Linked DNA regions of Homo sapiens. The protein of the gene in region 2 purifies or fractionates together with the protein of the main gene of each other region. This does not show direct contact. Each region holds a gene or a part of one and is shown on either strand. Other genes may lie near its edges. The genes, in order: CNRIP1 and PGLYRP1.

What was found.
Region 1: the proteins of PGLYRP1 (region 2) and CNRIP1 purify together in Homo sapiens (affinity purification with mass spectrometry; 3 studies listed by BioGRID and IntAct, with this or other methods). This does not show direct contact.

Annotation. Positions count from the first base shown.
Region 1 is NC_000002.12:68,314,066-68,326,177, forward strand, and holds the start of CNRIP1 (CB1 cannabinoid receptor-interacting protein 1), read right to left. Parts: upstream 5,885-12,112; 5' UTR 5,336-5,884; coding exon 5,157-5,335; intron 3,253-5,156; exon of another isoform or gene 3,243-3,252; coding exon 3,092-3,242; intron 1-3,091.
Region 2 is NC_000019.10:46,019,806-46,032,736, forward strand, and holds the start of PGLYRP1 (peptidoglycan recognition protein 1 precursor), read right to left. Parts: upstream 3,249-12,931; 5' UTR 3,217-3,248; coding exon 2,930-3,216; intron 1-2,929.

The DNA.
Region 1 (12,112 bases), on a different chromosome or scaffold from region 2:
TGGACTAGGATAAGACCCTTGGTATATACTCTAACAGCACTACTTTTTTGCTATACTTTTCATATTAGCAATTATTTACCTTATCATTGATAATCATGTATAAAGTATGTTTCCACCCTCAAGATCAGAAATTCTATGAAACCCGGGTTATCTATTTTGTTCACCACTCTTCCCCCTGAGTCCCTGATATACAGGAAATCCTCAAATATTTGCTGATAAAGCAAGCAAATTTTAAAAATCTAAAAATTCTAAATAAAAGAGCATATAGAATTTAGCAATATATTAATAATACATGTTTAAGTAGGGCTTATTGTAAAAAATAAGGTTTAGTATTTGGAAGTGTATTACTTTATGTAATTCATCAAATATATCAAATAAGATAAATTATCTCCAACTACTGCTACTAGCTGTAGTTGACTGCTAGCAGCAGTCAACATTATTCTAGAAACATTAGACAATGCAATATGACCAGGAAAAAAAAAGACAGTTATATTCAGATTCTGACCATCTATATGAAAAACCCAAGATGATTTGCTGAAAAATTTTAGTAAGCAAGTTCAGTAAGGTGGTCAGTTACAAAGTATATGAATACATATTATAAAAACAGTGTATCTAAAACAATGCAGTATTGGTGTAACAATAGATAGATCAATGGAATAGATTAGGGAGTATAGGAGGAGATAAAATTTTTGCAATATAAGAAATTTCTATGAAACTGACCTTTGGAGAAGCATAGATTATTTAAATAATTGTATTAGGACACTGTGGGCAAATACTTTCCAATATAAAAGTAAGAACTGAAATAATATCTAAATCTGTAATTCATCTAAAATTTAACAAATGAGACCATAAGAGTTCAGATGAAAATACACAAATGCCACTGTGTATATGTCTATATATAATTAATTAATCTGGGAGTCAAGGAAGACTTTCTAAGCTGGATCTTAACTGCAAAATAATAAAGGAAAAGGCTAACATGTTTGACTACAAAATTTATATTTTATATTGTAAACAAAATAAAAATTAAAATATTAAATGAACACTCAAGATGTGATAAAAATGACGATTTTAAATTTATAAAGATTTTTCAAAAAATCAATAAGATACACTTAAGCAGAAAAATGGGTGAAAACTATGAACATATAATCCATGAAGCAAATACAAATAGTAAATGAATATGTCAGGATTTCAAATTAACAGTAAGTAAAAATTGAAGTATTTCAGTCAGATTAAAAATATGTAAACATGACAAACTATACCTAGTGCAGAGAGAAATGGATACTTAAATACAGATGATAGGCGTGTAAATTGCCTAGCTTTTCTGGAGGTCAGTGAGGCAGTCTTATAAAATGCCTTAACGTGCACATTTCTTCTAGAAATCAAGAAAACATTAGACAATTGTACAGTACTCAGTGATTTGTAATGTGGTTTTGTTTATAATACCGAAAACCAGAAATAATCAGCAATAAGTGACTGAGGATAATTTGATACATTCATAAAATACAATACCCATACAGACTTTAAAATGACATTCCATATATATATATGGGCATATATTTGACATTGAAAGATGTATACAAGTAGAAAAAAGTATATATATGGAATGATACTCAAATATATATATTTAATGACAGGGTCTTACTCTTGTCACCGAGGCTGGAGTGCAGTGGTGTGATCATAGCTCACTGCAGCCTCAACCTCCTGGATCCAAGTGATCCTCCTGCCTCAGCCTCCCAAGTTGCTGGCACTACAGGTGTGGTATCACCACACCCGGTTAACTAAAAAAAATTTTTTTAGAGACAGGGTCCCACTATGTTGCCCAGGCTCACACATATATATTCAAAGACATAGAAACAACTTTCTAAGAACATTTATTGACATGTTAACAACACTTCTCTCTTGCAGGAATTATACATTTCCCTCATTTTTGTATTTTTCTGTGTTGAAGGTTCTTTGACAGAACAAGAGCACTTTCTAAAAATAGTTCAAACATTGGATGCAAAGGGATGAGCTGCTAGATTATTTCCTTATGTGACTATTGTGGTTTTAAAAAGTATAATGGGGACTGGGAACACTTTAAGTTTCCAAAGGTTAGATAGGCATTTCTCAAAGTGCATTCCCACACCATCCTCTTCAGGATCTGGTATGCTTGCTAAGAGTTTCTCTGTCCCCACCCTAGCTCTACTGAGCTAAGATCACTGGAGAGGGAACCTAGGACTGGAATTTTAAACAAACTCCCAAAGAGATTCTCACGCATACCGATATTTGAGAACCCTTGTGATACTTCCTATAAAGCTAGAGGGCAGACAGTTGAAGGTTGTTCTTGCAGAGGGAAAAGGCTGCCCAGTTTGCAAGCAGCAGTTTAGGTGAAGCTTCCTTTTCCTGTGCTTTAGCAAGCTTGCTTCATCACCTATTTATTATGTTTGCACATATAGTTAAATCTATGTCTTGACTCTATCCTTTCTACCAATTTGTTTTTTCTTACTTGGGGCCATATTACCAGGGTATATCATTTTATTATATATGATATCTGATAGGATTACCAGATATTATATATAATAGGTATATATAATATAGGTATATATATATTATATAGGTGTATATATAATAGGTATATATTATATAAAATAGGTGTATTATAGGATATTATATAAGAGGTGTATTTTTCCCATGACACTTTTTTTGGCTCCTCCATTTAGCTTTAAGTAGCAAAGTGTCATTCAAATCAGCTTTCTCTTAACCAGAATATTGTGGCCTACTTGGAATCAGAAACTTTTCACAGCCAATTATCTAAACCAGTTCTGAAGTAGACTATAACTGGGAAAATGGCAATGTAGGTTCTGTCTCTTCCAGAACCATCTGCTTCTGCTTATGGTGTCTTTTCAGCATCTACAGGGTCAGTCTGTCATGCAAAAGAGCATTAATTAAGTAGTTCTCTCTCCAGCAGATGCTTGAAGGAAATCCACAACTCAATTTCCACAGTAATTGGCTCCCAACACACCTTTTCTTACAGAGAGATAGTGATTGTTTTCTTTTCTGTGGTTTCCATTTTCCATGGCACCATACTCCTATACCCGCAAGCAAGCCTTACCGGCATGGTGATCTGGATGGGTTGCCGTTCTCCACTCTTCGTTGGGGTCACACCTTCTGTGTCATATGTACCCGTATAAACAACTCTGTCCCCATCAGGCTCTTTAGACTTCAGTTCCAGTGGGACAAGCACACCACCAATGGAAATATTCCTGCAATAGACTTGAGTTGACCACATACGGTTGAAATTAGCCTAGGCACCCTGTCCTGTTTTGGACCAAAACTCTAGGCAGGAAACTTACAGGGTTTCACTAAGGGGGGCATTGTGGTGCGGGAGAAAGTTCTGCAAGTTCAGGGGGCAGTGCTTCTCCTATTTATGAATTAAAAACCTACCTATCCCCAGCCCCAGACATTAGGATTCAGTTGGCCTGGGATGTAGTTTGGACACTGGTACATTTATTTTAAGGTTATCTAGGTGATCTTAATATGCAGGTAGGATTGAGAATACTGAACTCGTCCTCTAATATTTTTTTTCTCCTGTTCCAACAATCAGGGGTCCTATGATTTGGAGTACCTCAAGCCTTCTACACCATCAGAAATTCTCACTGGCATCATTCTTTTGTGTTAGGATAATGGTTCTCAAAGCCAAGTCCCTGGACCAGCAGTATCAGCATCACCTGCAGACCTTAGAAAACAAATTCTTAGGCCCTACCATAGACTAAACTAGAACTTCTAGGGAGAGCTCCAGCATCTGTGTTTTAACAAGCACTCCAGGTGATTCTGATATATACTCAGGTTTGAGAACCACAGGATTAGAGTTGAGAAATCCTTGATAGCATTAAAATGTAACCAGAAAAAATAGTTTTATTCCTAACAAATTAACTTTTAGATTAGTTTGAACACTAGAGGAATACTCTAAAAAAAAAAAAAAGAAATATATTAACAGATAACTCCGGGGATAAGGTTGGCAGGAAAGAAGGGAAAGGAAAAGCCTGGATTATATCCAGGTGCACAGAACACTGGGAAATGTGAGAATAAAGGGTGCATGGAGCTGTGGGGGATGCTGACAAATAGATGAATCAGGAGTACCAGAAACCATCCAGATTTGGTTCTAGGTCCTTGCACCTTGGAAGGCTAATACAAGTTTACTGAATTAAAACGTAAGCTATAAGTAGTATCTGATGAATTCAAAGTCCTTCCACCCCCGCAATAATGCCCACCATATGTAGTAGATACAATAAATGCTGGTTTATTTTCTCTCTGCAGACTAGACTTTGGTAGGTAGAAACGAGAGGTAAAGGGGCTCCACCCGCAGTTCTTCCGGGTAGGCTACTGCATGCTCCCACACACTTTCCCGCCAGAGGTCTACTGGGTGCATTATCCAGCGGTCGCTGGCAAGAAATCGTCCCTGCCATGGATAAACCAAAAAACATCCTCTTGCTGTGGGGATGTTGCTAATCCCAGGCACCATCACCAGCCTGAACAGAAAACTCAGGAGAAAAAGAACAGCATACGGCATGGAAAACCGTGAAACTAGGCCAGAGAAGGGGCGGCCGCTCTCTTACTAGTGTCTGCTGCTCCACCCCAGGGTCCCAGCCACTGAATGGCGAAGGGAGTGGGGAGCATCCCTCAGGGAGCCCCAGTAATCACCCCTCCCCTGCCTTTCCACCTCATTCCTCCTTTCTCCCTCCTTCAGCCTTGCGGGCAGACCCTGTGGGCCGCCTGGACCGCGCGCAGGAGGGCTGGGATTGCGGTGGCTGAACCCTGCGGACCTCTCCCATCTGCTCCACCCCGACCGCCTGCGGTTCCGCGCCCAAGGCTGGACAGAAGGCAGGAGAAATTTATAAGAAACAGACAAGCAAAAACCCTGGCTTCTTGTCACTGATTTTAAAGAACCCACTGAGGTCACTGCGATGGGTGGAGGGAAGCGAGAATGGAGGAATACAAGCCAAAGGGAAGGAAGGGGACGAAGGCGGACAGGGAGTGACCTCTTCCTCCAACCCCCGGGCCCGCTGGGAGCGGCGCGAGGCCAGAGGCCCTTGAGAGGCTCGGGCTGTCCTGGGGGCCTCAGTCCTCTGCCTGTACCCCATGGGGGACCCTGCTGCCACCAGGCGCCCCGCACTCACTCGACCTGCAGCGTGCTGGGTTTAATCTTCACCTCAACCTTGTAGGAGGAGCCGGTGAGCAGCTTGATGGTGCGGTTCTGGCCGAAGCGCTGCCCGTCCACCTTGTAAAAGACCGGGCCGTCATTAGGCTGGATGCGCAGCGCGATGGAGAGGCGCACGAGGCCCGGCAGGTCCCCCATGTCTGGGCGAGGGTCTGGCGCGGCGGCTCCGGGGGGCGGAGGACAGCGCCGGCTGCGGCCGAGTGGCTGGAGCGCGAGGGGCGGAGAGGAAGCGCGGGGAGGGTGAGGGAGGTGGTGGAGCTGAGGCTGCCGCTAGGAACCCGCGCCGTCGCCGCCGTCCGCCCGGGCTTTTGAGGAGCAGCTCCTTAGGCTGTGGCCCCCCTCCCCACTCGGCGAGGAAGCGGGCCCAAGAGACGGCTCCAAGGCCGCGCGCTTCCCCATCCCCCGCTCCAGTGCTGCGCCCTCCACGCACCCGAAGGCTCGCTCTGGCCCGCAGGCCGCCGCGCAGATCCGCGCAGCTGGGGGCGAGGGAGTTAATCCTGTTTACGCACCACAATCCCCTTCAGCTGGGGAAGCGGACATTTAGGCTCCTCCTAGAACAGCCCCGGGCAGGAGGAGGAGAGGTTTGGGAGGCACTGGGAAGGCGCTGGAGTTAAGCGACCACTATGCCAAGGAGCGAGACCCCCGGAATCTGGATACCGCCTCGGCCAGCTACGTGAGGTGGACACTGCTGCTCGCGGATCCGGCGCCAGCCAGGCGGGAGGAGGCTGAGGGGGGGTAAAGGGAGGCGGGAAGGGGGGACAGGAAACCGCTAGCCGGTGATTTAAATTTCAGGAAATATGAGTCTTTCCAAAGCTTAGGGGAAATGGCCGAGGAAAGGCGCAATTCCACGTGATGGAGCCACGCTGGATGAGGAATGGATGCAAGAGGAAGAAAATAACCATATTCAAGGAGCTACATCTTCTTGTGGGTGTACATTTCCATTATACGTATGCTCGTCCCAAAAATGACACATACATAAATATATGTAATGAATCACATATATTTACACAGATTTTGAAGGGTGAGCTATTAACCCTGTAAAAGGCAACTGACATGAGCCTAAGGCATTCTGGTGACAAAATGGCCAAGAGGTGGGATGGGTCAAAGGATTATTGGCAGGGGGCCATATGCGACACCGCAGAGTTTAGATTTGCATATTAAGCGTGATTAGACAGTTTTCGTGGCAGAGGTCGGTAGACAGCTGACTTTTGGAAGCGAGGGGAGACTCAGGGGGTGAGGACTATACTGGGAATGGCTTCCCGGAGCAGAGAGAGCACCTGCTTCAGCACCACCCAGATGGATAGTACCAGAGCCAGGGAGCACACCTGGGAAATGAAGTGGGCTAGTGAGAACAAATGGGTAGGGATGCGTTTCCTTGGCAGTTTTTGTTTACCCAAGTTAGACTGCTCTTTTTTAAGAAATAATAAGCTATACATATAATATATATGTAATATGGGTGTTTATTGCAACATTGGTTGCAAAAATAAAAATAAAACCTAAATGAAATGTTAACCAATAAATAAATGGCTGAATAAATTCTTATATACCCACACTATAGAACGTTACACAACTATCAAAATAATGAAATATAGGTTGCATTGGCAAACACACAGGCAAAAACTGTTAATGATAAAAGTGGGATGGCTGGGAAACAAAGCCTGAGGGCGAGCATTTTGTCTGTTTTGTTTGTTGCTGTTTCCCCAGCATGCCAAAATAGTGCCTGACACATAGTAGGTGCTCCAGAAATCGTTGTTGAATTGACTTACGGTTGTGGTCTTAATCATGTCCATATGTAAATTCTTTCACATCTTTAAAATTAATTAGATCCTTGCGATTTACCTGGAATGATGAAAAGAAATCTAATTGCAAGTAGCATCTCTAGTGTTTTAGAAAAATGAAAATTTAAAAAGAATATAAATGTGTATGTTTGTATTAGCTCTTTTAAAAGAATGAGAGAGTTACACAGTAAACTTAATGTTGGTTATTATGGTTTATGAGTAGTGGAAAGAGGGTGAGTATCTTTTTGGGGTCATTTAAAAGCCTTTTTGGAAATTTTGCCTTTTTTCCTCAACCTTTTGTTTAGCAACCCCACAATCTCAAGCCAACTTCCACCTGTGTATCAAAAAGAGCATTGGACCTGGAGGATGATGACTCCATTTTAAAACCTGGTTCTAAGGCCGGCATGGTGGCTCATGCCTGGAATCCCAGCACTTTGGGAGACCAAGGAGGGCAGATCATTTGAGGCCAGGAGTTCAAGACCAGCCTCGCCAAAATGGCAAAACCTGTCTCTACTAAAAATACAAAAAATTAGCCAGGCGTGGTGGCGCATGCCTGTAGTCCCAGCTACTTGGGAGGCTGAGGCATGAGAATCGCTTGAGCTGGGGAGGCAGAGCTTATAGTGAGCCGAGATCATGCCACTGCACTCCAGTCTGGGCAACAAAGTGAGACTCCATCTGAAAAAAAAAAAAAAAACCCACACAAAAACAAAAACAAAAACTCTGGTTCTAGCCTGGCTAGGTAGTGCACTCTTGCAGTCCCCACTACTTGGGAGGCTAAGGTGGGAAGATCACTTAAGCCGACGAGTTTGAGGCCAGTATGGACAAAATAGTAAGACTGCCATCTCATAAATAAATAAAATAAAAAAAACCTAACTCTGCCACTTTTTAGTTTCGTTATGCAAATAACTTAACATCTTTATGTTTCATCTTTGTAAAATGAGGATTAAAATACCTCCTTCCCAACATTGTGAGAATTGAATGAGGAAATGGAAATTGTTTGAAAAAAATAAATTACTTTTCAAATACGAGGTGTTACTAATGCTGGGCAATATCCATTAGGAATAGCATTTTCAGGACCATACAATGTAATGTCTTAAAATGAAATTAATAAATGTAAAAGTAATTGGAAAATTTATCATCACTGATACATATGTGCAAAGAATATGAATATGGAGTCTGATGGATCTGTGTTTGTGTTGCCAGATCTGTGGATTACAAACTGAGTGACCTTGAGCAAAGCTGCTTTAGTCTCTTGGAGCCCCAGTTTCTTCATTTGTAAAATGATGATGGTGACATAGATGATGCATATAGAACCAAATGAAATTGTGTAAACTATGCAAGAATATCAGGCCCATAGAGACACTCAATACATTGTAACTATTTTTATTTAAAAATATACTTGCTGAATATGTAGCAACTTTTAGTTTAGATTCAGGTTTGTTACTGGAGCGTATTGCATGATGCTGAGGTTTGGAGTAGAAATGATCCCATCATCCAAGTCCTCAGTGTCTATTGTTACCAATGGAATGAAGACTACTAGCCAGGGAGGGAGGGAGACAAGTAAGGGTTGAAAAACTGTTTTATGTCCATGGGTACCCAATGGTTAGCACCCACTAAAAATGAGAACATGCGGTATTTGGCTTTTTTTTCCTGCATTAATTCATTTCTTGCTATATATTTTTAAGGTATCTAGTGCTTTCAGTCTTATTGTAGATTCTTTAATTATTACCTCAGATTGGTGATCTTAAACATTGTCTGTCTAATGGACAATGCTTATTATCATTCTTTTGAAAACTGTGAAATTGAGCCCAAGTGAACGATGGACTTAGTTGTCATTCAGAGGAATCACATGCTATGGTTCAAACGATTCTCCTGCCTCAGCCTCCCAGCTGCTTGTGTTCCCCCAAAATGGCTATGTTGAAACCGAATCCACAAAGCAATAGTATTAAGAAGTGGGTTCTTTTGGAGGTGATTAGGTCATAAGGGCTCTTCTGCCCACGTGAATGGGATTAGTAGTACCCTTGTAAAAGGGGCTTGAGGGAGGTCGTTTGCCCCCTTCTACCATGTATGGATGCAGCGGGAATTTGCCATCTATAAAGCAAACAGTGAACCCTCACCAGATACCAAATTTGCTGGTGCCTTGACCTTAGACTTCCAAGCCTCCAGAATCGTAAGCAATAAATTTCTGTTGTTTATAAATTATCCAGGCTAAGATATTTTGTTATAACAGCATGAACAGACTAAGACATTGTGCTAACAACCGTTCCATATTCGCTGTTCCAGTCTCTGCTGAATTCATAATATAGAGTTCAAAAACAGTTAGAATTATGACACAGGACATAGTTGTGTGCATGTATATGAAAATAACGTAGTTAAGAGTGCTGGGACTGGGTTATACACATACATATGTATACACTCAATTATGTCATGTGTCATAATGTGTCCTGGGCTTGGGTTATACACACACACAAACACATATACACAATATAATACCAGCACATTTAACAATGTATTTTCCTTTGTATTCATGTTTGCATTCAGGTACAGTTTAACATCTGCAGGAGTTATTTCTTATTTTTATTCTTAAATTAGTGTCAATGATTTATGAGGTGCTTGACTCCTTCCCTTTGCCTACCTCAGAATGTCTTAGCATTAGAGATCTTAACTGGTACATTTTACATTTTATTTTATTTTATTTTACTTTTATTTTTGAGATGGAGTCTAGCTCTGTCACCCATGTTGGAGAGCAGTGGTGCAATCACAGCTCACTGCAACCTCTGCCTCCCAGGTTCAAGCAATTCTTATGCCTCAGCCTTCTGAGTAGCTGGGATTATAGATACGTGCCACCATGCCCAGCTAATTTTTTTTGTATGTTTTAAAGCAGAGACAGGGTTTCACTATATTGGTCAGGCTGGTCTTGAACTCCTGACCTCAAGTGATCCACCTGCCTCAGCCTCCCAAAGTGTTGGGATTGCAGATGTGGGTCACAGTGCCCAGCCAGGTACACTTTACATTTATATCAGGGCTTTCTTTCTGGCTAGATTTAACAGACATAAAGACAAAGCCATCCTCCTGGACCAATTCTGAAGAACCTAGGTCCTCCCTTAGACCCAAAGGATTTTGTAGCCATGGCAATAAGCAGTAGACCTCATTTGTCTGCTAGGCTCTTAGGGGATCTGGTTACCTCCTTATACAGTCACATGCACCTTGGTCAGGTGATGGCGATCATAATGTCAGTTTCGTATTTTGTTCTGGGCCAATTTAGCATAGCACTTTATGTTCCAAATAATACTTTTGCTGTTTCCCTACATAAATGTTATCTTTCCTGAACAACCAGGACAGCTCCACTCACTTTTTCTCCACAAATGAAAGTAAATACTCAATTAAAACTAGATTCCATGAAGATAGTTTTCTACTTTTCCTGTTCTTGACTCCTTTTGTGAGGCTGGCTAGAGTTCCATTGAAAAAGAACACAAACCTCCTTACATTAGGTGGAAATATCTGTATTATTTCTACCACACCGATACTTCTAATTTTATATCTCCAGGTTCAAACATTTGTCTAAGTTCCAGATTCACATAACCAACTCCTGACAGAATATCTCTACATGCGTGTCTGATAGGTTAACAGGTGTCCCAAGCATAACATGGCTAAAAGTGAATTCTCAATTTTTTTAACCTCAAATTCATTCTCCCTGAGGGTTACTTTTTTTTTTTTTTTTTTTTTTCTGGAGACAGTGTCTCACTCATTCTGTCACCTAGGCTGGAGTGCAGTGGCGTGATCTTGGCTCACTGCAATCTCTGCCTCTCAGGTTCAAGTGATCTGCCTGCCTCAGCCTCCTGAGTAGCTGGGATTACGGGCACCTGCCACCATGATGGCTAATTTTTGTATTTTTAGTAGAGATGGGGTTTCACCATATTGGCCAGGATAGTCTTGAACTCCTGACCTCAAGAGATCCACTCGCCTTGGCCTCCCAAAGTGCTGGGATTACAGGTATGAGCCACCACACCCCACCAAAGGTTTCTTATCTCAGTAAGAGGCATCATAGTTTACTCAGTTGCTCCGGTAAAAAAAAATTGGTTTATTCTTGATCCCTGTCTTTTTAACCCTTTGCATCAAATCTATCAGGAAGTCCTATCAGTTCTTCACAAGCAAGCTGTTTCCAGGCACCTCTCACCATTCCTACTGTTACCACTGCGGTACAGGCTGCTATCACCCCCATGCAGAACACTGCACATGGCATCCTGATGTCCATCCCACTCCCACTCTTTCCCCTTACAGTCTGTTGTGAATATTTCCCCGCCTGTATCATACTCCAGGTCCTCACTCACTGTATTTTTCTTCAGAGCACTTGTCACCAACTGTAATTACAAAAGAAACTTGCCTACTTGTATATTGTACCCCCACTGTCCTCTGCAACCCCAGTGTATAAATACCTTTAGGGCAGAGATTATATTCTGTTTATAACTATATTCCCAGTACTTAGAACTGACCCCACTGTATAGGGGTGCTTATATTGGTTCAATGAATGTACAGATACATTAATTATTCAAGATTGTCATTCTTCTCCTTCATCAAGGCCCGAGTCAAGTTCTTCCTTTTCCTTGAAGCTATAACCGACTAGTCCAGCCCCCACAAACACTCACTTCCTTTGAAGTCCTACAGCAATCATGGTATGGGCAACTTTCAATTAATCGAAATGTTGGGGGTCATGGAGGGCTGGGAGAAGATAAGGCAGCATGGATAATCCAAATCTGAGGTAAAAATGGAATTAGTAAAAAATCCAGTACAAAATTTATATAATATTTATAATATACTTAATTTTTAGGGCATATTTTCCCTGTATAGATTTCTTTCAAAGGTAAAAATGATACAGCTACTTTTAGGAACACAAAATGTTACACAAATTGTTAAATCAAAAAATAGCAAAGTCTTCTTTGGTTTTCAAATAATACAGCGAGGTCCATGGCATATGAGTGTATCAATGAACAAACTGTCTTTTCAGAGTTCTGTATTTTCCAGTCATAGTCTGTGATATTGAGCTCAATTTTGTTTTTGCTCTCTGCTTTCCAAACACCATCATTTCCCATCTTCACACTGAGCAAACTCACAAAGCTGTCATTTTTCAGTCTTTGCA
Region 2 (12,931 bases):
CTGTGGTCATTTATTGGGCCCCTGCCATGTGCCAAGCACAGCTCTGCATACACCTTTTTCCATCCTCACAGCAACCCTGTGAGTCACTATCACCCCCGTTTTATATAGACAGAATCAGAGCGGTAGAATCACCTGCCCCGGGGTCACACAGCCTGTCTGGGGCACAGCTGGGGTTTTTAACCAGGCCTCCATGGTCCCCACCCATGTGATCTTGTGCGTTGCTCTCTCCTGCCTCCCTAGAGGATTTGTGGAAGTCCTGTTTTACTGAATCCTTGCAGGACAGCCCTCTGAGGCAGAGACTTTTTTTTTTTTTTTTTTTTAAGACGGGGTTTCACTCTTGTTGCTCAGGCTGGAGTGCAGTGGCGTGATCTCAGCTCACCGCAACCTCTGCCTCCTGGGTTCAAGTGATTCTCGTGCCTCAGCCTCCTGAGTACCTGGGATTACAAGCATGAGCCACCACACCCGGCTAATTTTTGTATTATTAGTAGAGATGGGGTTTCACCATGTTGGCCAGGCTGGTCTCGAACTCCCGACCTCAGGTGATCTGCCCGCCTTTGGCCTCCCAAAGTGCTGGGATTACAAGCATGAGTCACCGTGCCCAGCCAAGGCAGGGACTCTTATCATCCTCATCTTAAGCAGAGAGAGCAGAGACTCAGAAAGCGACATAATTTGTACAAGCTACTCAGAGCCCCCTGCCTCTCAGAACTCTGCCTTTGCCCCAGCTTGCTTCCTGCCCTCGGGGTCCACTGGGGGACAGGATCACAGACTCAAAGTTGGGGTCGTAACCAGATACCGACCCTGGAGCCCCAGCACCTGCCTCTTTGAGGTTCCCAAGCCTGGCAGCAGATCCTTAAGGCTGATTCATTCAGCACATCTGATTGAGCGTGTCTGACTTGGCAAATGGGAATGAACTAGAAGATCAGTGCCTTGGAGCTGCAGTATGTGCCAACTCAGCCCCCGCGCTCACAGTGTCATTAATGACGCACAGAATGTCGGAACTTCCGAATCTTGAGTCCCGAATCTGCTGCTTAGGAAGCCAGCTCCCAGAATCTGGCCCCAGTGATGCTGGCTGCTGGGACTGGCTGGTTATGGCCCTGCTGGTGATGCTGGCTGCTGGGACTGGCTGGTTATGGCCCTGCCATATTCCCGGAGCCTGGCATGATGGTGCTGGGGTCGGGGGTGGTTGGTTCTCCCTGGTCATTTGTTGCATGAATGCATCTCATTGAAACCTCAGCCACCATCGCCAAGCGGGTACAGTCAGAAGCCCCATTTACAGGTGAAGAAACGAGGCTCAGAGAGAGAAGGTGACGTGACATGGAAAGGGGATTCAGAACGTTAGAACCAGATTCGGAATCCTAAAAGCTGAGGGCCAGACAGCGGCTGCTTCTGTATGTGGTGATGTGGACCCGAGGCTCGGGCCTTCGTGACCTCATGGGAACACTTAGGATCAGAGCGCCTGAGTCTTGGAAACAAAATGTTGAAGTTGGAGTCTTTGATAAAATCTTGAACTGGAAGGGCTGGGAATACCTTTGGACACTTCTAGACTTCTCTGGGTGGGTTTTGTGTGTGTGTGTGTGTGAGACACAGCCTTAGGAGGTCCTGAGAACATGTGTCCCCTGGGTGGGGTCTATTGAAGTGGTCTCTGGGGACCTGCATGTTCCTCCAATAAGCTCTGCAGGAGATTCTGATGCTTACCTGGGTCTGAGAGCCTGCAGGATTGAAAGTTCCCTCCCTGTGGAAACCGTCAGGCTGGACTGCAGCCCATTCTAAGGAGGAGGTAGCTGGTAGGCGTGGCCCCGGACCTGCTTCAGCCTGCTTCAGCCGGCACCCCTTACAGTCTGTTCTCCCCACAGCAGCCAGAGGGAGTCTCTTGTACCTACACTAGCCCTGGTCCCTGCTCTGCGGGGGGAAGCCTCCCATGGCTCCCATCTCGGAGTAAAAGCTACAGTCCTCACTGTGGTCCACAAAGCCCTGCCTGGTCCTGCCCTTTCCTCATTTCATTCCGCTCGCCCGGCTGTGTTCAGCCACCCTGTCCTTCCCACAGGACCCGCCCACTCAACCCCGTTGGCTTTGCCCCCAGCACCCCCTGCCACCTGCAGGCCTCTGTCTGCTCCCCCATCCCAGAGCCAAGGCAGCCACTCTCAGGGAGGCTTTCCCTTGCCCCACCCTTCCAAGGAGCCTGTGTGGGTCTGGTCCCAGCCTGAGGTCACCCTCCCTCACCTCTTTCCTTTTATCCATCGCCTCTATCACCGTCTGAATTCACCTGTGGCCTTGGCTTGTTTCTCCCTGCTGGTCTTTCAACCCCAGGAGGCTAGAGTGGCACCGTTCTCCATGCCACATCTGGCACACTGCCTGGCACATAGTAGGTGCCTAATGGTAATAGCCCGTGGCTTTGCGGGCCCCCGTGTGCCAGGCAGTTCCTAGGTGCTTTGCCTGTATTGGCTCATATAAGGAGCAGATGGGCCGCGATTCCATTGACTTTGCCGAGGAGGAAGCTGAAGCCGGGAGGACCCGCCCCAGGCCTCAGCCAGCAATAAGATGAGCTGACCCTGGAACCCAGCTCCGCACTGAGTCAGCCTGGTTTTCCGCCTCCTAACAAAGGCACCAGGCATCAGGAAGGGGCGCCTTCATAAGGCGTCGCGGACACCTTGGTGTGTGTTAGGCAAAGCCTGCCCCTTCTTCCCGGGAGCGGGAGCGGGGCTTGGATTTCAGCCCATCCCCCCTTCTCACGCATCTTTGTGCTGTGAGCACCTGCCCCGGCCCACGTGGTGACCCGAGGAAGAAATGACCTTGTGAGGTTCAGTAAGCTGCTCAGGGTGTCAGCCAGGTGGCCTCAGCACCAGGCCTAGAAATGGTCCCGCTGGCGGGCACTTGCACACCTTTGCCTCTGGGATCCCCAGTCCAGCCCGTGCCCCCCTGCCACACTCACTTGTAGCCCACGTCGCACCAGCCCAGTGTCTTCATGTGGTAGTGCTGCACATTCCGGGCCTGCTGCTGGCACGAGGCGGGGGTGTTGCAGCTGCTGCCCGCCGTGTGCGATACCACCACATAGCGTAAGGGCAGGCTCAGGTGCTGGGCGCACTCTGATGCCAGGGCCTTCCACTCGTTCCGGGGCACTATGGGGCTGCAGCAGGCCGGGTCTTCTGTCTCCTGAGCCGCTCCGAGTCGAAGGAGGCTGGGGAGAGCCCAGGCAAGCAGCATAGAGCGGCGGGACATAGTGGCAGGGCGGCAGGGTCCGGGAGACCGCTAGGAGCGCCCGGTGGAGGGGCCGCCTTTATCTGCTGGGGGATTCCAGGAGTGGCCCGGAAAGTCTTGCTTCACACCCTGCTGGGACTTCCTGCTGGCCCAGCAGACCCCAGACTCAGCTTCCTTCTCTGGCTGGGCCAGGGCGGGATGCACTGTGGTTGGGGTCTGGGTCACGCCCACGGCAATGACAGGCCCCCTCGCTCAGCAGGGAGGGACGCACAGGCCCCTGGGCGCTTCGCCCCGCCGTTTCTGGAAGACCCGGGGCCGGGATCCCGGTCCTGCTTGTCTCTCCTCTCAGTGGAACATTGAACAACTCAACAGGAACTTACATCGCAGAGGCCCGGGGCATTGGCACATCTTCTCCCCGCAAGGACTGAGGTAACAAAGCTACCCATTTTAAAAACACTTCCTTCCCCCAGGTCCAAGCCTGATGCCATTTACGCTTGCAGCAAACTCAAGAGGTGAGTATCTGGAAGTCCATTTCACAGTGGAGTAAACTGAGGTTGAGAGCAGGGAAGTCACGGGCTGAGACACCGGAGGCACTGGAGCCCCGCGTCTAGAGCCAGGCTGCCTGCATGTGAATCCTGGATATGCAGTGTGTGAGAGCCTGCAAGTGGTTTTTAAAAATGTGTATTTAAAATTTTTTTTTTAATTTTCTATTTTATAAATAATATTTTCCTTTTTTTTTTTTTTTTTTTTTGAGATGGAGTTTTGCTCTTGTCACCCAGGCTGGAGTGCAATGGTGCGATCTTGGGCCACTGCAACCTCCGCCTCCTGGCTTCAAGTGATTCTCCTGCCTCAGCCTCCTGAGTAGCTGGGATTACAAGTGCACACCACCACGCCCAGCTAATTTTTATATTTTTGGTAGAGACGGGGTTTTGCCATGTTGGCCTGGCTGGTGTCGAACTCCTGACCTCAGGTGAGCCACCTGCCAGTGTTCCAGAGTGCTGGGATTACTATAGGCATGAGCCACCGTGCCTGACCTGTGTGGTGTGTTTTCATCTTCTGTGTTCTGCCTTCTCATATACATTGTACTCATGCTGTTACTGAATTGTGCACCAGGCATCTGTAGCACTTTTCAGAAATTATCATATACTCAACGACAAGCTTGCCAGATCCATGTTATTATTAACCCCTCTTACAGTTGACGGAACTGAGGCCCGGGGGGATGATCACATACAGGAGGTGATGAAGCCAGGGTTTGGCTACAGGCTTTCTGCCTGCAGAGTTATAAACCGTATTCTCCTCCCTACAAACTTATATAAGGACATTAAAAAAAAAAATCAAAACCATGTGCATCAATTTACCTTTTGTCACCTAATATTTCATGGGCATCTCACCAGGGCAGTACATCTAATTCTAATTTATTCTTTATAATAGTTGCACAATATGCTATAGTATCAGTTCAGCATTGTGGATCTTTTAGTTTTTGAAGGTTTTCCAGTATTTTCTCCACACTACGCAAAATATTTTCAGACATATATCCCTATGCACTGGTGCATTTATAAGTAAATTATAAACACAGAGTTATTAGGTCAATGAGTATACATATTTAATTAATATTACCAGATCATTTTCCCCAAAAAGCCATTAATAATTCATATTTTTCACCAGTAATGTTTTGGAGCCTCCTCACCCCGACCCCAGAAGTGGGTGTTATCACTTTTTTTTTTTTTTTTTTGAGTCAGAGTCTCGCTCTGTCACTCAGGCTGGAATGCAGTGGCACGATCTTGTCTCACTGTAAACCTCCACCTCCTGGGTTCAAGCCATTCTCCTGCCTCAGCCTCCCAGGTAGCTGGGATTACAGGCATGTGCCACCACACCTGGCTAATTTTTGTATTTGTAGTAGAGATGGGGTTTCGCCATGTTGGCCAAGCTGATCTCGAACTCCTGAGCTCAGGTGATCCACCCACCTCAGCCTCCCAAAGTGCTGGGATTACAGGCATGAGCCACCTTGCCTGGCCAGTGTTATCACTTCTTAAATTTATAAGTATAAAGTGACAGCTCCTTTGGCATTTTTATACCCACTCAGGAGACTGGGTATTTTTCTGTATTTGCTGTCTATATTTGGGCTTGCTCTTTTGTCAATTACCTGTTCATATCCATTGCCCATTAAAAAAAATTGGGTTGTTTGCCTTTTTGTTATTATTTGCAAAATGAACAAAAGAATCCCATAATTGGGATTTTTGACTTCTTGGGTGTGTACATTTTGTGTATTTCAGTTTTTTTAGAAGCATTAAAGAATAATGTAATATAAAAAGTGTGTAAACACATTTTTTATAGAGTTGATAGACTTAATAGAGTAGTGAGCTTATGAGTGTTCACGAAGTGAATCCACCTGTGTATCCAGTGCCTGGATTAAGAAGTAGAGCTACACTTAAAATTTTAATAGGAATTGGTAAATACAATACCAAAAAGATTTTAGTATATATTTTTCCCACAATATGATCAGTTTTTAAATGTTTTACTAATCCAAAGAACAAGATCTCATTATTGCTTTATTTGCATTTCCTTGAACATTAGAGAGGTGATTATCTTTTTACATATTTATGGCTATCAGCATCCATCTTCAAACTGTCTGTTCATCTCTTCTGATCATTTTCTTGTTGAGTTGTATATGGGGGATATTAACCCTATGTCTTATCAAATGTGCTGTAAACCCTTTCCTCTAATCTGTTAAAAAAATATCTAGGTTTTTCTTTTATGGTTTCTGTGTTTCCTGTCTTGCCTTAAGAGGGACTTTTCACACTAAGATTGTAAAACTTTTTCTATTTAAAAAAGATTATTTTGTGTTTTACTTTTAGATCTTTATCTCGGCTAAAATGTATACTTGCATGTGGTGTGAGGTAGGGGTCTGATCTTGTTTCCAGATGCCTAGCCGTTTGCCCAGGTTCTGTTTATTATATAGGTAGACCTGGTTTTAAATTTCCATTCTGCCCCTTATTAGCTACATGATCTTGGGAAATTGGATAGCAATTGACACAGTCGACCACTTCCTCCTTCTCAAAATACTTATTTCCCTTAGCTTTTGTGATGTAAGACTGCCTTGATTTTCCTTCTGCTTCTCTGGCTGGTCTTTTTTTCTCTCTCTCTTTTTTTCAGAGCAATTCTTCCCTCCTGGACCCTCAAACCATATATTTTGTGCTGAGTGATCTTATCCACATAATGGCTTCAGCCACAGTCAAAATGCAGAGGATTCCTGTATTTCAATGTCTAGTCTGGAGCTCTCAGTTGAGTTCTGGATCTGTGTATCCACCTGGCCACTTGACGCCTCCACTTGGATGTCCCACAGGCACCTCCAATGCAAAATGACTCATGACCTTCTCCTCCCCATCAGCACTCTCACAGGAGTTCCTGTCTAAGGAAATGGTATCACCATCTTCCCATTACAAAAGCCATACATTTGAGCACCATCCTTGACTAATTCCTGTTCCTTCCTCTGTTGTACCCAGTACCCAAAAGAATGCCCAGCACATGGTAGGTGCTCACTAAATAGCTACTTGATTGAATGGATATGCAACCCACCACCAAGGAATGCCACTGTGATGAATTAGAACTCTTCTATCTAATTCCATTCTCTGCACCCTGGTCCAGACACCACCTCCTTTCACCTGGATTTTGCCCTGCCTCTTCAGTGACCTCCCAGGATGCACTCTGGCCTCTGTGAAGCCAAAGCTCTGCTCAGATCTTTTCTAAAGTCACCCTCAAAAATGAGTCACATTTTTCATTGGCATCTCTTGATTCCTAGAATGAGGCCCAAGCTCCTCCCCATGGCCAACAGCATGGGCTGCCTACAGTATGGGCTGCCCCCATCCCAGCCTCACCTTGCTTACTCCCAAAAGCCTCTTTCTGACTCCTGCAGCCACTGTCCCCTTCTTGCTGCCCTTGAACATGCTTTGACTACCCTGTTCCCTTGGGGACTTCAGACACACCAGGTATAAGTTTTAAATAGAGGAACCTGGAACGAATTCAGGAACTTTGTACCTTAGCTTTAAGACAACAAAACACCAAGCCAGCCTTTTGTAAAAAGACAGGACTATTTACACATCACATTCCTTTTTTTAATTTTTATTTTCTTTTTTCCCTTTCTTTTGCCTGTTCTTTCATTTGAGGCACAGATCCCTTAAAGACACTAAGAATATAAACATTAGCCAGCTGGAGTGAAGCCTTCCATTGTGAGAGTTTTATTTAGTCTGTATCTTTAAAAAAATGTATTTACTTATTTATTTTTTGAGACAGTTTCACTCTGTTGCCCAGGCTGGAGTGCAGTGGCACAATCTTGGCTCACCACAACCTCCGCCTCTTGGGTTCAAGCAATTCTTTTGCCTCAGCTTCCCTAGTAGCTGGGATGACAGGTGCCCACCACCATGCTCAGTTAGTTTTTGTATTTTTTTTTTTTTTTTTTTTAGTAGAGATGGGGGTTTCACTATGTTGGCCAGGCTGGTCTTGAACTCCTGACCTCAGGTGATCTGCCTGCCTCGGCCTCCCAAAATGCTGGGATTAAAGGTGTGAGCCATATTTACTTACTTATTTTTACATACAGGTGTGAGCCATATTTACTTACTTATTTTTACATACAGGTGTGAGCCATATTTACTTATTTTTACATACAGGTGTGAGCCATATTTACTTACTTATTTTTACATACAGGTGTGAGCCATATTTACTTATTTTTACATACAGGTGTGAGCCATATTTACTTACTTATTTTTACATACAATACAAACACTTTAAATAAAGTTGAAGATCATCTCCATGGACCAGGTGGTCAAGCCGAACACCCAGGATCCAGCTGTCAAGTTCAGGGTAGCCCCTGAGCTTCTCACTCTGACTCCAACAGGGTGAGCTTGCTATCCTTGTGGCACAGGGCCTTTTGCATTGTGGATGATGGAGCGGCTCGTATAGTCCATAAGTTTTGTGCGTAGCTGTGTACCCTGTCCCTGTGAGCTGGTTCTGCCCGGCACCTCGGTGACCTCGAGGAAAGAAGCTGAGGTAAGACCTGGCCTGCCTGGCTCCTCGACTTCCTTCCTCAGCCCTCAAATTCTGGCTCCCACCTCACTCTCTAAATTTATTTTTATTTTAAATTTCATTTTAGAGACAGAGTCTTGCTTTGTCACCCAGGCTGGAGGGCAGTGGCACCATCATAGCTCACTGCAGACTCGAACTCCTGGGCTCAAGGGATCCTCCTGCCTCGGCCTCCAAAAATGGTGAGATTATGGACATGAGACACTGCACTGGGCCTATTGTGTATCTTGTTGGCCTAAAATTGAAACATGCCTTGTGAGCGTTTACTGCAACTTCAATGAGTGATTATTATGTTGCCTTTAATCCTGAGAGACTGTATTACTTGTGCACTTTTTTTTTTTTTGGATAGGGGGAAATTAGATTTATTCCCTATATGTTTTAGAAAATTGAAGTTTTAAATATCAGACTCACTAGCTGCCCTGATTTAATCTGTTACAATTAAGTCAGTTAAAAAACTCCTCCTTGGCCGGGCATGGTGGCTCACACCTGTAATCCCAGCACTTTGGAAGGCCAAGGTGGGCAAATCACTTGAGATCAGGAGTTCGAGATCAGCCTGGCCAACATGATGAAACCCTGTCTCCCCTAAAAATACAAAAATTAGCCAGGCGTGGTGGCGGGCGCCTGTAATCCCAGCTACTTGGGAGGCTGAGGCAGGAGAATCGCTTGAGCCCGGGAGGCAGAGGTTGTAGTGAGCTGAGATTGCGCTACTGCACTCCAGCCTGGGCAACAGAGCCAGACCCTGTCTAAAACAAAACAAAACAAAACAACAACAAAACCCCCAGGACTTCCTGTACCCACATTCTAGTGGGGAAGACAGGAAGCAAATTAACAAACATCTAATAACTATTTTTAAAAGCCAGATATACGATATTTCACGTGGATGACCCGATTGGCCTGCTGCGGGTCAGGGAAACAGGCTCCCAGGTCGCATCCTCAGCTTGTTCTTGGCGCTGGAAAAAAGATGCTACGCGGTTCCCTCCTTCAGCCACCAGAGGGCGCGCCCTCCCCGTTTGTCCTCTTTCGCGCACTTTTTCTCCCGCACCTGTCAGTCACAGGGCAGCCCTTTAGCGGAACAGGGATCCTGTTCTGTGATTTTCCTGAGGGCCTGCCTCTCCCAGGGAGTAGCGGGCTCCTACGAACAGTAATAGCAACCATAATGTAGAGACCAAGAGCAGAGTTACTGAGTTTTATGCTGATGTCCAAAGTCACAGGGCATTTCATTTTTCTTCTTTTTTCCTTTCCTTTAAAAAAATGGGCTGGGCATGGTGGCTCACGCCTATAATCCCAGCTCTTTGGAAGGCCGAGGCGGGTGGATCACCCGAGGTCAGGAGTTCGAGACCAGCATGGCCAACATGATGAAACCCTGTCTCTACTAAAAGTACAAAAAATTAGCTGGCTGTGGTGGTGGGCGCCCGTAATCCCAGCTACTCGGGAGGCTGAGGCAGGAGAATCACTTGAACCCGGGAGGTGGAGGTTGCAATGAGCCGAGATTGAACCATTGCACTCCAGCCTGGGCAACAAGAGCAAAACTGTGCCTCAAAAAAAAAAAAAAAAAAAAAAGTGATTGGGTCGTGAGAGTTCTGTTTTCATAAATGAATTAATACATTCATGAATTAATGAGTTAATAGATGAATGGGTTATCATGGTAGTAGGACTGGTGGCTTTATAAGAAGAGGAAGAGAGACTTTAGCTAGCATCCTCAGCCCCCTCGCCATGGGATGCCCCATGCTGCCTCAACACCCTGTAGAGTCCCCACTAGCCAGAAGGCTGTCAACAGAAGGACCCCACAGTTTCAGCCTCAGAACTGTAAGAAACAAATTTTGTTTCTTTATAAATTACCCAGTTTCAGGTATTCTGTTATAAGCAACAAAAAATGGACTAAGACAGGAATATTACTGGGTTAAGAAATAAAAGTAAAAAAGAACTACTATTGATACATGCAATAATCTGGATAAATCTCAAGGGCATTATGCTAAGTGAAAAAAAGTCAATCTCAAAAGATTTCATACTGTACAATTCCAATTATATAACTTTTTTTTTTAGACGGAGTCTTGCTGTGTCACCCAGGCTGGAGTGCAGTGGTACAATCTTGGCTCACTCTCACTGCAACCTCTGCCTCCCAGATTCAAGCAATTCTCCTTGCCTCAGCCTCCCAAGTAGCTGGGATTACAGGAGTGCACTACCACGCCTGGCTAATTTTTGTATTTTTAGTAGAGATGGGGTTTCACCATGTTGGCCAACCTGGTCTTGAACTCCTGACCTCAGGTGATCCACCCGCCTTGGCCTCCCAAAGTGCTGTGATTACACGTATGAGCCACAGCGCCCAGCCTATATAACATTCTTACAATGAGAACACAACAGAGATGGAGAACAGATTGGTATTTGCAAAGGGACAGATACAGTGTGTTTGTGTATGTGCATGTATATGTGTGTGTGCCTGCCACTATAGTGGTAACACAAGGGGATTCCTTTGTGGGTCTCTATCTTGATTGTGGTGGTAGGTATACAAATATTTATATGGATCAGATTGCATAGAAACACACATGCACATGCGTGCACACACACACAGGAATGCATGTGAAACTGGTGAATACTGAATAAGGTCCTCTGTAATCTAGTTAACAGTAATGTACCCATGTCACTTTCCTGGTTTTGATATTATACTATGGTTATGTAAGATGTTCCCACTGTGGGAATACTGGATGAATGTTACGTGGGACTGTATGTACCATGCAATTTCCTGTGAGTCTGTAAGAGTTCAACACAAAAAGTAATTACAAAAGAAGAAAAGAAAAGGTGCTGGTGATGACAAGGTTGTTGGGAAAAGGGCTTGTGCGGTGCCTGCATAAACTGGCCGTAAAAAATATGGGACAATAAGTTGTGGAAAGCCACAGGAGGCCTCTGATGAGGAAAGCCTTCTAATTGCCATCACGTTCCCATGGCCAGAGCGTGACCTGCTCTCTTATTTACAAGCACTGTGCTCAAGGAGAAAGACACTCCTTTGAAGCATTGGAATGTGGCCAGATATGCCGGCTCCTAGTTACGCCCACTCCCCACAGCTGCTCTCCAGTGAGTTAAAGAATAAATCAGTAGTTAAGTTTATGCTGCTTCAGCACAAAGACAATTTACCTAAACCGCCATTGCTATAGATTAGGTGTATGACACACCGCCCCCCTTTCACCATTTCACCCCTGAATATCTGCTTCTCAGATCTAAGTGATTGTACTCAGTAGTGTGGAGACCAGAGTTTGGCACCTTTTGCAGCCTCCAAAAGTGCAGTTGGCCCCCTGGCACCCCACCCTTTATGCACTCTTAACCTGTCTCTTCTCATTCCTTCGTCGCCACCGGACTTTGGGTACCCTACGGGTGGTGTTGAGGCTGGTCCCCAACACAAGGTGACAGCAGCCATCCCACTCCATTAGCAACTGTGGTGATAAGCACTGGTTTAAAATGGGCTGAATTGAAAACTGTTACTCTTGCCTTAGTCCAGGGATTGGCAAACTTTTTCTATAAGCCCCAGGTAGTAAATATTTTAGGCTTTATGGACCACATATAATCTCTGTTGCATATTCGTTTCTCTCTCTGTGTGTCTGTGTGTCTATGTGTGCTTTAAAATGTTTTATAAATGTAAAAACCATTATTAACTCATTGGCTGTTTAAAATAGGCCACATATAGTGTGTGTGTGTGTGTGTGTGTGTGTGTGTGTGTGTGTGCACATAGGTGAGATTTGGTCTGTGGGTTATAGTTTACCAACCCCTGCTTTATACAATATTTCTAAAGGCTGGACATGTTACGTCTTCTGACTCTGGAGTTGTTGACAATGTCTTAGCCACCTGTTCTGCCACTTGGAAGACTATAGACCAGCAGACTAAAGATATCTCTTTATAAGGCTGTGAACTCTGGAAATTCAATCACAGCTGCTAATGGAAACTTCTAAGTCCACTAGCAGCTGTGATTCATTATTCATGTAGATGCTCATAGTAATGATGGCAGCAGTGGCCCGTCTGGAGCTGCCACTGCCATCATGTGGGCTGCAGTGGGGGGCAGGTGGCACAGTTGGGGCTGTACACTCCACTAGACGGTTGGAGCTGGGGACAAGTGGGAGCCCTGCCCCTTCCAAGTTGGTGGGGCAGGAGCTCCCCGGGTGCAGCTGCAGCCACCCAAGTCATGGCTATGGACCCAGGCCTTCCACTCCATGGAGCAGGCAGAAACCCCACCCTCCCAGGTGCAGCTGCGGCTGCCCAAGTTGTGGCCTCCCTGTGCTCTTGGAGGTGCTGGGAGCAGGCAGGAGCCCCACCTTCCTGGGCACAGCTGTAGCTGCCCAAGTCATGGCTGCAGACCTGGGGCTCCCACTGCATGGAGGCCAGAGCCCCACCCCCCCAGGCATAGCTGCAGCCACCCAAGCCATGGCTGCAGACCCAGGCATCTCTGCACTCTTAGGGGCCTGGGAAGGCACTCCCTGCCCTCACAGGCTTAGAAGTGCCTCCTCCTGCTGCCTGGCTTCTCCCTGCTGTCAGCACCCACTGCAATCTTAGAGCAAAGTTGGGGCCGAGCCTAGGCACTGTCACAGCCTGGCTGGGTGTGCACATACCCGGGGCAGTGCTGACACACCAGCCCCCTGCCACAGCCCCCTCCAGACTTTGGGCACCGATGAGCATA